Homo sapiens: one gene and its partners. The protein of the gene in region 3 interacts with the protein of the main gene of each other region in a pairwise test. Each region holds a gene or a part of one and is shown on either strand. Other genes may lie near its edges.

Evidence for each region.
Region 1: the proteins of WDR37 (region 3) and COL12A1 interact in a two-hybrid assay, tested with the Homo sapiens proteins (one large-scale study listed by BioGRID).
Region 2: the proteins of WDR37 (region 3) and EIF4G3 interact in a two-hybrid assay, tested with the Homo sapiens proteins (one large-scale study listed by BioGRID).
Region 4: the proteins of WDR37 (region 3) and TRIP11 interact in a two-hybrid assay, tested with the Homo sapiens proteins (one large-scale study listed by BioGRID).

The regions. Positions count from the first base shown.
Region 1 is NC_000006.12:75,199,554-75,203,053, forward strand, and holds part of COL12A1 (collagen alpha-1(XII) chain long), read right to left. Parts: intron 3,275-3,500; 5' UTR 3,240-3,274; coding exon 3,167-3,239; intron 272-3,166; exon of another isoform or gene 1-271. UniProt on the Homo sapiens protein: Type XII collagen interacts with type I collagen-containing fibrils, the COL1 domain could be associated with the surface of the fibrils, and the COL2 and NC3 domains may be localized in the perifibrillar matrix.
Region 2 is NC_000001.11:20,805,979-20,809,897, reverse strand, and holds the end of EIF4G3 (eukaryotic translation initiation factor 4 gamma 3), read left to right. Parts: intron 1-2,397; coding exon 2,398-2,579; 3' UTR 2,580-3,419; downstream 3,420-3,919. UniProt on the Homo sapiens protein: Component of the protein complex eIF4F, which is involved in the recognition of the mRNA cap, ATP-dependent unwinding of 5'-terminal secondary structure and recruitment of mRNA to the ribosome. Functional homolog of EIF4G1.
Region 3 is NC_000010.11:1,062,651-1,066,586, reverse strand, and holds part of WDR37 (WD repeat-containing protein 37), read right to left. Parts: intron 1-3,936. UniProt on the Homo sapiens protein: Required for normal ER Ca2+ handling in lymphocytes. Together with PACS1, it plays an essential role in stabilizing peripheral lymphocyte populations.
Region 4 is NC_000014.9:91,967,060-91,970,559, reverse strand, and holds part of TRIP11 (thyroid receptor-interacting protein 11), read left to right. Parts: intron 1-666; coding exon 667-887; 3' UTR 888-3,500.

The DNA of each region.
Region 1 (3,500 bases), on a different chromosome or scaffold from region 3:
TTAGAAAAGTGCCCAGTTCTCAGGGAATACTGACCATTAATCTTTATATGCAAAGTGTTAAGTTTTCTACAGGATAATTAACATACTGTATCATACATGAACCAAAAATAATTCATACATTCTAGGCCACTCAGATACAGTTGATAAAGTCTATGCAGTGATGCGGTTGATAAAGTCTCTGCAGTGGCTAAAAATTATAGATACTGAAGTGAAAAAATCATTTCCACTCTTATTTCTATAGGACAAGATAACATAGTATGAAAAATATAGCTCCTAATACAAATAAGCAGAAGAAAAACAAGACAAAAATATTACCACTATAAAAAAGAAGAAAGGCAAAAAGTGAATACCAAAACATTTTAATGTTTTCAAAAAGGTATTGGGTTTTTAATATATAAAACATTAAGGTCATAGAAAATGGTAATAAAATAGTATGAATATAAGAGTGCAAGTGTGAGTCATGAAAGGAAAAGAAACGTAACTGTGGCTACTTTAGGACTCAGATCAAAATGGCATGGTACCAAATGGAGTCCCAAGTTGAAATTTTGAAATGCCCCCAACAGAAATATTTCAAAGAAATTCTGGTTCCAGCCCAGTGACCCCAGAAAGGCTTTGGCCCCAAATTTTGTTAGCCCTTCAAAGGCCCCTAGCACCACTTAGTAGTCAACAGCAGAGCTGTGCTGTCCGACACGGAAGCAACCAGACATCTGTGGCTAGCAAGCTCTTAAAATGTGGCCAGTACGAAATAAACTGTGCTGCCTGTAATCCCAGCACTTTGGGAGGCCGAGGCAGGTGAATCAATTGAGGCCAGGGGTTCGAGACCAGCCTGGCCAACATGGTGAAACCCCGTCTCTACTAAAAATACAAAAATTAGCCAGGCATGGTGGCAAACCCCTGTAGTACCAGCTACTCAGGAGGTTAAGGCATGGGAATCACTTGAACCCAGGAGGCGGAGGCTGCAGTGAGCCGAGATCAAGCCACTACACTCCAGCCTGGGCAACAGAGCGAGACTCTGTCTCAGGAAAAATAAAAATAACTTAAAGAATAAATTGCACTGTAAGTATAAAATACACACCCAATTGTCAAAGACTTAGTACAAAAAAAGTCAAGTATCTCACTAATAATTTTCATATTGGCTCCATGATGAAATAATTTAGGTTAAATAAAATACATTATAAAATTTAATTTATCCTGTTTCTTTTTCCATTTTGAATATGGCTACCAGAAAAAAATGTAGGTTACATATGTGGCTTACATTTGTGGCTCATACCATATTTCTATTTGACAATGCCAAACTAGAGAATAAGGCCAAAAAATGAATCCTATTAAAATATAATTATTAAATACTAACTTAAGGAGATGGGATACAAGAAAAGACACAGATTAAGAAGCAAAAAAAAAAAGAGCTGTACCATATGGAAATAAATACAAATTTAAAAGATAAAATATAATATGGGAATAATCAGAAATGTAGATAGTAAGCTGTTCTTTCTAACTGCACTTTGCTAACCAGCCAATATCTAATTCAGAATCAATTTTTTCCACTTACATCATTTCCAGCCTAACTCTTTTTCTAAGAATTCTCAACTCTTTCTGATTTTCAAATAACTATTTTCTTAATGAGCAATAAATGGGCCACTTCAGTGAATTATCTAAAAATATCTGTAGTAGGGCCTCCAGAAGTTCCTCAAATAAAATTCCTTCCTAACAACGACATAGAAAGGAACATTAAAAGCAACTTCATCTGACTATTACTTCACAGAGGCCACTCTGAAAAGCCTCTACATTCATAAAATATTCATCAGCTAAGAAAAGTCAGCAAGTTTCTGTCACTTTTCTTAACATGCCATACATTTTGGAAACACTCTGCTTCCCCTAATTTTTTTTTTACCTGTAGTCTTGAAGTAGAAAATCCAACACTATAGAAACCTTGAAAACCTTGGCATAATCATGCAAACAACCATACTTTCTCACAGCCTCTAAAAAAGCACACCTCAACCCAGAACTTCCACAGCTGTCACTTGGCAGAAGTGTTTTTTTTCCTCCCTTAACTTCATCAGGGGTATTTCTTTACTGAAAAAAAAAAAAGATATCTTTCATGACATTACCCCATTTTCTTTGCAGAATAAGAAAACTAATTTGTCAGGTCTCCAGTGACAACTGAGGGGCCACAGAAGCCGCCATGGGGTTGACATATTGAAATGGCTTGTTTAATGAACACTGAGAAATTAAGACATCAAGTGCACACAACAAATAAAATTGGGTGGGACATCTAACAAAAGCCCTCCATTTTCTAGAGGAGGGGCCACACGGCGCCGTTTTGGAAACCCATCTCGGAGCGCCCCACTGCCTCCGCGGGAAGGTCCGACGCACCCGGCTGTCCCTGAGGGAGGCAGGATGGAGCAAGGGCAGGACACTGGAGGTGGTGCCCAGCAACTCCGGCGCGCGCTTGCTTCCCAGGCTGGAAACCTTGGCCCAGGCTCAACCTGTCTGAGCTGGACCAGTCCAGGCCACGCGCCTTGGAGCCCTGCTAACCAACAGGGACAGCCGCGACCCTAGGTCGTGCGAACACCTGGGGTCCCGGATCTCCGCTTGCCTGCCATCATCCCCCAGGCTGCTTGGCTGCTGGCTCATCTGCCCGCACCGTCCGCCCCGCCGACTGAGCTCCCCACAAAGCACACAGAGGCGCAGAGCCAGCGCTGTTGGAGTCTTTTATTGTGTTCTGTCACCGAGGTCGCAGCCCCGAGCCAGGTGGTTGGTTACCAGCCAAGCGAGCGAGTGCGCCCGCTCTTCGGGGCTCCTGGGTGCCACCCGGAGGTGTCCTGTTGGTTGCGCTGATTAGAGCCGTCGCCCCCTCTCGGGCGGCTGGTCCTCTTATTAGGCGGCAGTGCAGGTGGCAGTGTGGACAGCACACCGCAGAGACAAGCTCAAGAAGACCACACAGCACTGTACGGAATGCATTAAGCAGAATACGAAAGAGCTGGACCTGAGAGCTGGGAAATGGACAAACCTCAGGAGAAAGGGGCGTTTCTCTGAAGGAGAGAAACCACCGGAGAAAGCACGAAGCGCAGGGAAAACAGAGCAAGCAATAGAAGCAAGAAAGATGTGTTTTTTCCTTTCTCGAATTTTGCATTGTCACTCGGTGAAGGGGAAGGGAGCCTTTTACCTTCTGCCTCAATGGAAGACAGGAGCAGGGCCGCGCCCAGGGCGGCAAGCGCTGGGGGAAGCCTACTCCGCATCCTTGGCCTCCGAGCTTACAGCGGCATGAAGAGATCTGCGGGAGGAAGTAGTGACTGCATCAGAACTGGGTCTGGGCAGGCCTTGAACCAGGTTAGAACTGGAGCCTGGACCTAGTCCAGAACCCGACCAGATCTGCCTTAAAAACCACAGGGCCTACTCCAGCACATAATGGGCCTATTGTGAAGCAGTGGAAGTCAAGTTCGTCTACAGAAGTTTAATCATGGCCCTAGGAGGAAGTTCAAGTTTAAAAAGGGTCCTGT
Region 2 (3,919 bases), on a different chromosome or scaffold from region 3:
CAGGCCTAATAAAACTTTCCACAGTGATGGTAGTATATATCCATACCATTGAGTATGGTAATCATGAGCCACATGTGGCAATTCTATACTTAAATATGTCTGTTGTGACTTAGGAACTGAATTATTGACTTTAAATTTAAATAACCATGTTTGACTAATAGCTTCCATATTGGACAACACAGGTCTAGGGCATGAAAATGGTTAATGATGTTGAGGATGATACTCTAGAATCTTTAGACACCCAACAAAGACCCTAAGTGTAGTGTATTTACCATGCTATATTTACTAAGGAGTTTCAGAATAGTTTTTAGTTAAGGGTTATGATTAATTCTTGGCTAATGAAACAAAGTAACCTGTACACTTAAGTCTTAGTGATACTTGGTGTTAACTAATGATTTTTATTACATCTTGAAAATTCAGTTGGTATTTGTTAAAGCGGGCAGTACATAGCTATTAGAGAGAGCACTCAAGTAGTTCTTTGGTACTTCCTTATTTTCGCTTTTGTAAAATTCCTTCTTTCCTAGTCCTGAATCGCTCTTGGAGATAAAGGAAAAGATGAAAGCAAATTATCCTTATAGTGTAACTGAAGAGACAATCTACCATGAATCAGATAATTTGATAATATTAGCTTAACTAATATAATTACAAAGATAAGTCTTTTTAAAAAAAGGCCGAGGCATGCAGATCACCCGAGGTCAGGAGTTTGAGACCAGCCTGGCCAACATGGTGAAACCCCGTCTCTACTAAAACTACAAAATTAGCTGGGCGTGGTGGCGCATGCCTGTAATCCCAGCTACTTGGGAGGCTGAGGCAGGAGAATCACTTGAACCCATGAGGCGGTGGTTGCAATGAGCCGAGATCATGCCACTGCACTCCAGCCTGGGCAAAAAGAGCAAAACTCCATTTAAAAAAAAAAAAGTTAATACGACTCATGATAAACCTAATATTGATTAGCATTTATTGTTTATTCCACTGCCTCCCTCCATTAATATAAATGATCGGAGAGCTGACTATAATAACTATAAGCTAATAACTTATTATATATGATAACTATAATTCTCAGTTTTACTATGAGAGTAAAACCGAGAATTAAAATCACACGGATAGTTTGGACGTTTAAAACAGTAAATAACAGGTGTAGTTTCACTGGATAAAATCCAGATGAGATAGCTTTTACTCATGTTTTCCATGTGAATGATCACCTCTTGTTCTTTTTTGAGACGGACTCTCGCTCTGTCACCCAGGCTGGAGTGCAGTGATGCAATCTCAGCTCACTGCAAGCTCCGCCTGCCGGGTTCACGCCATTCTCCTGTCTCAGCCTCCCTAGTAGCTGAGACTACAGGCACCCGCCACCATGCCCGGCTAATTTTTTGTATGTTTAGTAGAGACGGGGTTTCACTGTGTTAGCCAGGATGGTCTCGATCTCCTGACCTCGTGATCCGCCTGTCTCGGCCTCCCAAAGTGCTAGGATTAAAGGTGTGAGCCACCGCGCCCGGCCACCTCTTCATTTTTAAAACAACATTACAAGGAATAAAAAGCATATCCTGCCTTTCTCCCTTCCCCCAAATTTTGTAAAAATAATACAGTAAACTTGCAGCGCAGAAAATAGTAAAAAGAAAGTAAAAAACTACTCGTATTTAAATTTTATAGGGTTTAGATTGAGATAAACATGATATGAAACAGCTTCACTGGTATCAGAAGATAGTTCAGATTGGGCCGGGCACGGTGGCTCACGCCTGTAATCCCAGCACTTTGGGAGGCCAAGATGAGCGGATCACCTGAGGTCAGGAGTTCGAGACCAGCCTGGCCAACATGGTGAAATCCCTTCTCTACTTAAAATACAAAAATTAGCTGACTGTGGTGGCCGGCGCCTGTAATCCCAGGTACTTGGGAGGCTGAGGCAGGAAAATTGCTTCAACCCAGGCAGGCGCCTGTAATCCCAGGTACTTGAGAGGCTGAGGCAGGAAAAATTGCTTAAACCCAGGCAGGCGCCTATAATCCCAGGTACTTAGGAGGCTGAGGCAGGAAAATTGCTTAAACCCAGGAGGTAGAGGTTGCAGTGAGCCAAGATCGCACCACTGCACTCCAGCCTGGGGACAGAACAAGATTGTCTCTCAAAAAAAAAAAAAAAAAAAAAAAAAACAGAAAAAAAGTTCAAATTGTACAAAATAATAGGAATAAAAAAGAATTTAGACTGCTTCAATCTTTTTTTCCTCTTCTTTAAACAAGTTGTTGGGCTGTTTATACTGTCAAGAGCAAGTATGGTGAATTGTCATTATTGCTTTTTTCTGGGGGAATTAATGCACATTTATTCAGTCATTCATTATTTTGAAATATATTCTTTTCCTCATAACTACAGTGTCCCAAAGCTTATAGTTTATTTTCACCTCCTTGCAGATTTGCTGCGGATGTTTTTTGATTGTCTATATGACGAGGAGGTGATCTCCGAGGATGCCTTCTACAAATGGGAGAGCAGCAAGGACCCTGCAGAGCAGAATGGGAAGGGCGTGGCTCTGAAATCTGTCACGGCATTCTTCACGTGGCTGCGGGAAGCAGAAGAGGAGTCTGAGGATAACTAAAACTTCAAATACACAAAATGAAACAAAAGAAACAATTTAAGTATTTTTTTAAAAAGTTTCACGTCTTCGCCAATCACAGTGCAGCAAGGCCAATTCTCGCAGAAACCCCCACGTGTGCACGAGTGGGAGAGGGGAAAGAGAAAAAAAGGTGATCATGGAGGAAAAAGGTACTGGATAAAAGTAAACTTCAAACCTTAGGGCGGGAGCACTAAAACCAAAATACATGTATTATTTATAGAAAATATTTTCTGTTTTAATCTTTTCTTTTTAAACAAGGACTCATACTTAAAAAAATGTTTAGCAAAAAAAAAAAAAGTTGAGAACTTTTAATTTATTTTAAGGACTGCAAATGCCAGTGTAATTTTTTAATTTGCAGTTTCTGTAAACAACTTGTATAATAGAAAAGCAGAGAAATAAATTTCCCTCCCCTTCAAGATGCACCTCATGTTTGTTTTAAGGTATAGCATTTAGTCCAGATTTGAGAAAGTTTGGGGTGAACAAGGTAAGAAAGATTTTTTTTTTTTTGGCATCAAATCTTTCTGCCTGCCTCTCAGCTTGCTTCAGAAAATTTAAAAAATCACAATAGTAATCAAAACATACATAACATTGAAACAGAAGGAAATGCTGTGGACCACAGAACTCCAAGAATTGTTTAAAAAAAAAAAAGTGCTACCCTGAGAAAAGTACTCTTAATACTCTTGAAATCTTTAGAGCAACTTTAAGGCTTGTAAATACATAGAACAAATATTTAAAAAAACAAAAAGAAATTGACTCAGTACTATTTCTTTTCACTTTGAAAATATAAAGAACAAAATAAAGACAAACATTGCAAGTTTAAAAGAAAGTAAAGTGACTTCTCCTTTGGACAGCTGCTGCATGTGTGCCCATTCCTGGGGGTGCTGTCTGGCTATTTATTGTCTAATTCAAATCACTCCTGAGGGGAGAGAGATAAAACGAGAGAGAGTGAGAGAGTGTGTGTATGTGCGTGTATGCGCACGTATGTGCATGCACATGTATGTATGTATATGTCTCTACTCACTGAAAAGGCAAGCTACTTTGTGGGTAAGGAGGGCACTTGTGCTTGGGTGGGAATGCCCCACTGGGAGTCCAGTGAAACTTGTTTCCAACACTAACTAAAAATGCATTCAGGACAGTAGGCCTCAAGGGCAGTCCTTTAGATAACTAAGTTTTCCACTCTGTGTATCAGGACTCAGGACAATAATTCACTTTGAGACTGCCACTACCACTGATTTTAAAATCTTCCATCAATTGCCTGCAATGCTTAAGAAACCCAAAGATGTCCTCTAAAGAATGAATAAAACCAAAAGCTATATTATGCT
Region 3 (3,936 bases):
ATCTACAAAAATCTTGCTGGGATCTTGATAGGAATTGTGTTAAATCTGTACATCAATCTGGGGAGAAATGGTATATTTATTATGCTGAGTCTTTTAATCTATGAATACAGTATTTATTTAGATCTTACTTTCCTCCATGTCAAGGTTTTTTCTGCATTAGTCCTAGTATCGGGCTGGGCGAGGTGGCTCACGCCTATAATCCCAGCACTTTGGGAGGTCAAGGTGGACGGATCACAAGGTCAGGACTTCGAGACCATCCTAGCTAACACGGTGAAACCCCGTCTCTACTAAAAAATACAAAAAATTAGCAGGGCGTGGTGGCAGGCACCTGTAGTCCCAGATACTCAGGAGGCTGAGGCAGGAGAATGGCATCAACCCGGGAGGCGGAGGTTGCAGTGAGCCAAGATCGCGCCACTGCACTCCAACCTGGGTGACAGAGCAAGACTCCGTTTCTAAAAAAAAAAAGTCCTACATATCTTTTCTCCATTTTAGACTAACATCTCTCTTTTTATTTTTTGTGTAAGTTTAAATGATACTGTACTTTTATTTTGGTTTCCACGTTAATTGCTAGTATAAATACAACTGGATTTTATGTATTAAACGTGTACATTCTTGCTGAACCTAAAGTTCAAGATTTTTTGTGGATTCCTTGGGATTTTCTATGTCAACTATTAAGTCATCTAAAAAAAAAAAGGACAGTTTTATTTCTTCCTTTGTGGTTTGTAAGCCTTCTATTTCCTTTTACTACCTTATTGATTTGGCTAGAAATTCCAGTACTATCTTAAATTACTATAGTGACAGCAAACACCCTTGCTTTGCCCTGAATATTCGGGTGAAAATATTGTGTTTCACCATTAACTTTGATGCCAGCTATAGATTTTTTTGTAGGTGCTGTTTATCAAGTTGAAAACGTTTCCCTCTATCATTCATTTTCTGAGTTTCTTTCACGAATGAGTGCTGAATTCTATCATGTTTTTTTCCTAGTAGCTTTTTTTTTTTACCTACTGACAGGACCAATTACACTCATGACTTTCAAACATTGATCCAACCTTGTAGCCACAAAATAAACTGCACTTGTTCATGGTGTATCATTCATTCTCTCTCCCTCTATTCTCTTTTTTGCCTTCTCGTGGGGTAAACATTTTTTATAATTTCATATTTATTTACCTACAGTATTTCTGAGTTTGCCTGTTTTGTATAACTTTTTAGTGGTAGCTCTAGGTTTTACATTATACATTTACAGCTTATTGTAGTCTACTGATTATCAACATTTTACCAGTTCACATAAAGTATACAAATCTTACTTTCCTCTATGCTTCTTTACCTTTCCCCATTTATAACGTAATCACAAATATTTCCTACACATACACTGAGAACCACACCACGGTTATGCTTCAAATTCCAAACACAATTTAGAAAATAAACGAATACTAAATTGACCGATATTTTTGCTGTCCATTCTTTGTTCTTCCCTCCTGATGTTCCCACATTTCTTTTGTCATTTCCTTTCTGTTTGGAGAATTTCCTTTATTTGTTATTTTCATAGAGTAGGTCAGCTGGAGATAAATCATGTGAAGGAAGTTTTCACTTGATATAAAATTCTGAGTTGATAGTCCTTTTCCTTCAGCACCTGAAAAAAATGTCCTGCCACTTCCTTATGCCCTCCACAATTTCTGATAAGATCCACTGTCAGGCCAGGCACAGTGGCTCATGACTGTAATTCCAGCAAGCGTGAGGGAGGCCGAGGCGGGCAGATCACCTGAGGTCAGGAGTTCAAGACCAGCCTGGCTAACATGGTGAAACCCCGTCTCTACTAAAAATACAAAACTAGCCAGGCGTGATGTGGCATGCCTGTAATCCCAGCTACTTGGGAGGCTAGGGCAGAACTGCTTGAACCTGGGAGGCAGAGGTTGTAGTGAGCTGAGATCACACCACTGCACTCCAGCCTGGGTGACAGAGCAAGATTCCATCTCAAAAAAAAAAAAAAAAAAAAAAAAAAAAAAGATCCATTGTCACTCAAATTGTTTCCCACTACAGGTCAAGTGGTATCTCTCTTACTATGCTTCTGTCTTCAGTTTTCAGAAGTTGGCCTGGATGTGTCTTAGCATCTTTGTGTTTATCTTCTCTGGGTTTATGCTGCTTCTTACGTCTGAAGGTGTATGGCTTGCCAAGTTTAGGAAACATACAGCAGTGATTTCTTCAGACACGTTTTCCCCCCACCCCGTCCTTCTCTCTTTCTAGACCTCTGATGACAGATGTTGCATCTTCTGTTAAAGTCCCACGGGCCCCTGAGGCTCTGCTCACTTTTTTCCAGTCTATTTTCTCTCTGCTGTTCAGATTGGGTAACTTCTATTGTTCTATCTTCAAATTGACAGCTTCTTTTGTCTGTCCTCTCCTTTCTGCTGCTAAGCCATCCACTGAATTTATTTCACATATTCTATTTTTCACTTTTGAAATTTTGTGTTTCTTTTTTACATCCTGTATTTTCTTCCTGAGGCTATTTGTCGTTTGTCTCGAATGTTAATTGGTTATTGAAGCATTTCTACAATCGCTGCTTTAAGGTCCTTGTCAAATAATTCTAAACTCTGTGTCATCTCTACGTTGGCATCAGTGGTCTTTTCTTACTGAGGTTGAGATTTTCCTATGAGTGATTTTCCATTGAAATCCTGACATCAGACTCAGGATCTGATGTAAGTCTTCTGTTAGAGCAGGCCTCTGCCAGGTGGATGTGGACGGTGAGGTGGAAGTTGAGATTCCCACTCAGCCTCCACGGACCCCTGCATGAGAAGGAAAGTTCAGCCTCCTGCCGAACTTCCACTCCCACCACCAAGGCTGAATCAGGGCTGCCTCCGTGCTGCTCCCTATACAGTCTCCCCCACACCACAGGGGGGTGGCCTCATGACCACAGGGCAGCAGTAAAGTTCCTGAGTTTTGCAAGGTCCCTCTTATGATACCCTAGCAGAAAGGAGGCTGTGCTCTGTCACCACCCAGCAGAAGTAAAACCCCAACTCCTCAGCCAGTCTTCTCTGACAGCAACCCTGCAGAGAGGAGCATCTCATCCCAGCTTGTCATGAGTGGGAATCTGAAGTACCTGCTCAGCCTCTGATTAGCAGGGTGAGGGTGGTGCTGCAGGGTTTCCTGTGATATTTAGCTGGAGGAAAGTACTTACCGCCGAAAAGTTCTCTGATTAGCAGGGTGAGGGTGGTGCTGCAGGGTTTCCTGTGATATTTAGCTGGAGGAAAGTACTTACCATCGAAAAGTTCTGTGATTTGTAGGCTGCCCCTTTCCTGGTCTTTCAGACACAGAGAGCAGGCTTTTCTTGGGCCTTGTTTTGTCTGAGTCCTTTTATACCTGCGCTGCTAGCTTATCCAGCACAACATATGAGATACATGAGGCAAAAAGAAAACTCACAGAACTAAGTTTGGTGTCATTTCTGTGGTCCCAATGTACGAAGGAAGTCTACCTTCTTTTCTCCATCTTTCAGTCTCTTTTTTTTTTTTTTTAACAGAGTGTCGCTCTGTTCCCCAGGCTGGAGTGCAATGGCACAATCTTGGCTCACTGCAACCTCCACCTCCTGGGTTCAAGCAATTCTCCTACCTCAGCCTCCCAAGTAGCTGGGACTACAGGTGCCCAACAGCACATCTGGCTAATTATTGTATTTTTAGCGGAGACAAGGTTTCACCATATTGACCAGAGTGGTCTCTAACTTGTGACCTTGTGATCTGCCCGCCTCAGCCTCCCAAAGTGCTTGGATTACAGGCGTGAGCCACTGCACCCGGCCCACTCTTACATTTGTTTTATATATGTCCAGTGTTTTTAGATGTACTTCATGGGAGGAATAAGGAAAAATAAGTCTCCATCTTTCCGCAAGCAGAAAGCCAAGAATCATCTTTTATTCTCAAATTGCATATGTGTAGGCCTATTTTTAAAGGAGAA
Region 4 (3,500 bases), on a different chromosome or scaffold from region 3:
TAGCATTGTTTTTTTATCAGAAAATGTTTTGAATTACCAAGAGTGAACATTAGTCAGATTTTAGCCATACAAATTAGTATTTGTGTTTAGGAATTGAGGCCTGTTTGTGCTTTCATTTTTTTTTTTAATTTTAATTTTTTGTTTTTGAGATGGAGCTTTGCTCTTGCCACCCAGGCTGGAGTGCAGTGGTGCGATCTCCAGTCACTGCAACCTCCACCTCCTAGGTTCAAGTGATTCTCCAGCCTCAGCCTCCCAAGTAGCTGGGATTACAGGCGCCCGCCACCATGCCCAGCTAATTTTTTATTTTGTGTTTTTAGTAGAGACGGCGTTTCACCATGTTGGCCAGGCTGGTCTCAAACTCCTGACCTCAGGTGATCCGCCCACCTCAGCCTCCCAAAGTGCTGGGGTTACAGGCATGAGCCACCGCGCCTGGCTGCGTTTTCATTTTGAATAAAGACCAGTCCAAAAAGATGTGCTGGATGCCAGTGTTATTACCGTCAAGGGAGAATTTTTAAGTTGATAAGTGATACATTGATTATTTTTATTTATCTATGCTAATCAATTTAACAATATTACACAGATAACTTTATGCTATTACATTCAGAGTTATTTCATTTTGACTTCTTTGTGAAAGATAGGAGACTAAATCCATATTTTATTCTTTAGATACAGCAGAATCCAGGTCTGGTAGAAGAACAGATGTAAATCCGTTTTTGGCTCCTCGCTCGGCAGCTGTACCTCTTATTAACCCAGCTGGACTTGGACCTGGTGGGCCCGGGCATCTTCTTCTGAAACCCATCTCAGATGTTTTGCCCACATTTACACCTTTGCCAGCGTTACCTGACAACAGTGCTGGGGTTGTGCTGAAAGACCTTTTAAAGCAATAGATGATTCTCAAGCCAGAGACAATCTAGCACTTTAAAGAAACCATGAACACTATATGTATGTACTTTATCACAAAGTGGCCTTTGGGGAGAAAGTCATGTATTTGTTCGCAATTATGCTTTCTCTGAATTTAATAAAAATATTCCTAATGCTTTTAGAAACTGCAGGTGTCAGGAGCAAGTGTTTGCTATATAATCTGCTTTATTCCTTCTGATTTGACCTAATTTAAGCTAGGAACATTTAATTTATCTTTTACCTTAATTTACAAAAATACAGACAGACAAAAATACTAGTAGCTATATGGCAGCTTTTTATTTCCTTTTGTGATTTCCAAGCTCATTTAAGCTAGAGATTGTGGTTTATCAAGAGAGTGTTTTTTTTTTTTAAACGAAGAATAAAAAAATACTAGTAGTGGCTTCTCTGCATAGTGCAGAAAGTTGATTTGAAGCATATATTGATCATCTTTAGAGGACTTTGTGGAGACAGGCCAACAAGATTGTTGCTGGAAGGTCATAGGTTCCCTGAGGTGAAGTATGTATTTGGTCCTGTGCAATATTATCATGTGTGTAGATTCTTTTTTTGTTTGTTTTAAATAGAGATGGGGTCTCACTATGTTGCCAGGCTGGCCTCAAACTCCTGGGCTCAAGTGATCCTCCCACCTCAGCCTCCCAAAGTGCTGGGATTAAGGCATGAGCCACTGCGCCTGGCCCTGTGTGTAAATTCATGTGACTACCACCACAGGCAAGACACGGAAGACTTCCATTACAAGCATCCCCCTGTGTTGCCCTCTCATAATCATTGCCACCTCTCTCCCTGGCCCTCTCCTTAATCCCTGACAACCACTTACTGTTCTCCATCTCAGTCATTTTGTTATTTTGAGAATGTTATATAAATGGAATCAATATATACCCTCTTGAGACTGGCTTTTTTTCACTCAGCATAATTCCCTTGAGATCCATCCAAGGCTTTGGATGTATCACTAGTTTGTTCCTTTTTATTGTTGAGCATATAGTGCAGATATATCACTTAGTTTTAACAGCTAAGGTATCTATTTAAAGATACCATCTTAAAACTAAATGTTACACAAATTCATGCAACTTTCATATAAGCATTAAACCATACAGCTGCATCTACGTAAGTATAATTAGCAAAATCACTGAACATGCCACTTCCTGCCTCCGTCTGCGGTGTTGACATATGAGGTACAGCAATCCGAGAGTCAACTGTTATCACGGTGGCCACTGAGGGCAGTGAAATCACTTTGATAGCACCAGTACCCAGATGTTTGAAACTTAAGAAAGTATTTCTTTAATTTTTCATAAACCCATCATAAAAAAAAAATCCCGACTTGAAACTTAACTGTATCTGGATGTTCATATTTTTATTAGTTGTTGAAGTTGTACATTTAAAAAGATATTTCTTGCAAATTTTGTAAATTTCTATATGCTTTTAAAATAGAAACATTTGTATAACAAGGAAGGATGAAAATAAAACAAATTCAAATATGTGAATAGTCCTGGCTGAGGCCAGAACTAAATTTGGTTATTTGCAAGTTTTACTGTGATTAACTGTACTTTCTAATGTATTTGGAAGACTGGAAGTCTTAATTCCATGTTGATGGGTGAAACTTGTTTTTCTGAAAAATGAAGTAACTGAAAATGCTGCTTCAGAATGTCTTGTATCTCCTTAGATAACTAATTTATATTGCCATTCTTTATTTACTATACTTTAAAGGAAGTTGTCATGCAAGTTCTATATTAGAACTGTCAAACTGCCTCTTGGTTTTTGCCTATTATTATTTCTCTGTGAGTTGTTACTCCTTGGTTTTTATATGCTCCTAACAAAGATACTTTCACTGACTATCCTACATTATTTGCTGCTTGCCATTGAAATTTCATTTCAGTGTGGAGAAATGAAATACTAGTTTCTAAGTTAAAAAAGACACATGGTCCTTTATTTTTAAGAAATAGAATATGTAAAAAGTTTTCTCTTTTAATTTGAAAAAGAGATGCATGGTTGGTATTTAAGTAGTATGTCATCATATTTGAAATGCCTTTTGTGACATTTTTGAGTATTTCCTTCTCTGACCAAAACAACTTGTCCGCCTCTCATCCCATGGTTTAACGTAAGTTTAAAAGCTGTTGTGGGTGGATTGCATAGCTAAACATCACAGAGCATGATATTAAATGGCTGCTATTTAAATAAATATGTGACCTTGTCCTAAAGCTATAATACTGGCCGGGCACAGTGGCTCACGCCTGTAATCCCAGAACTTTGGGAGGGTGAGGTGGGTGGATCACCTGAGGTCAGGAGTTCAAGACCAGCCTGGCCAACATGGTGAAACCCCATCTCTACTAAAAATACAAAAATTAGCTGGGCATGGTGGCAGGCGCCTATAATCCCAGCTACTCAGGAGGCTGAGGCAGGAGAATTGCTTGACCCCGGGAAGTGGAGGTTGCAGTTAGCAACCACTCCACTGCACTCCAGCCTGAGCGACAGAGCGAGACTCTGTCTCAAAAAAAAAAAAAAAAAAAAAAAAGCTATAGTACCTAATGTTTTCATTGTGTCATTGAAACTATAGCTGACTGGTATGTATACTAAGTGTTCGTTGATCT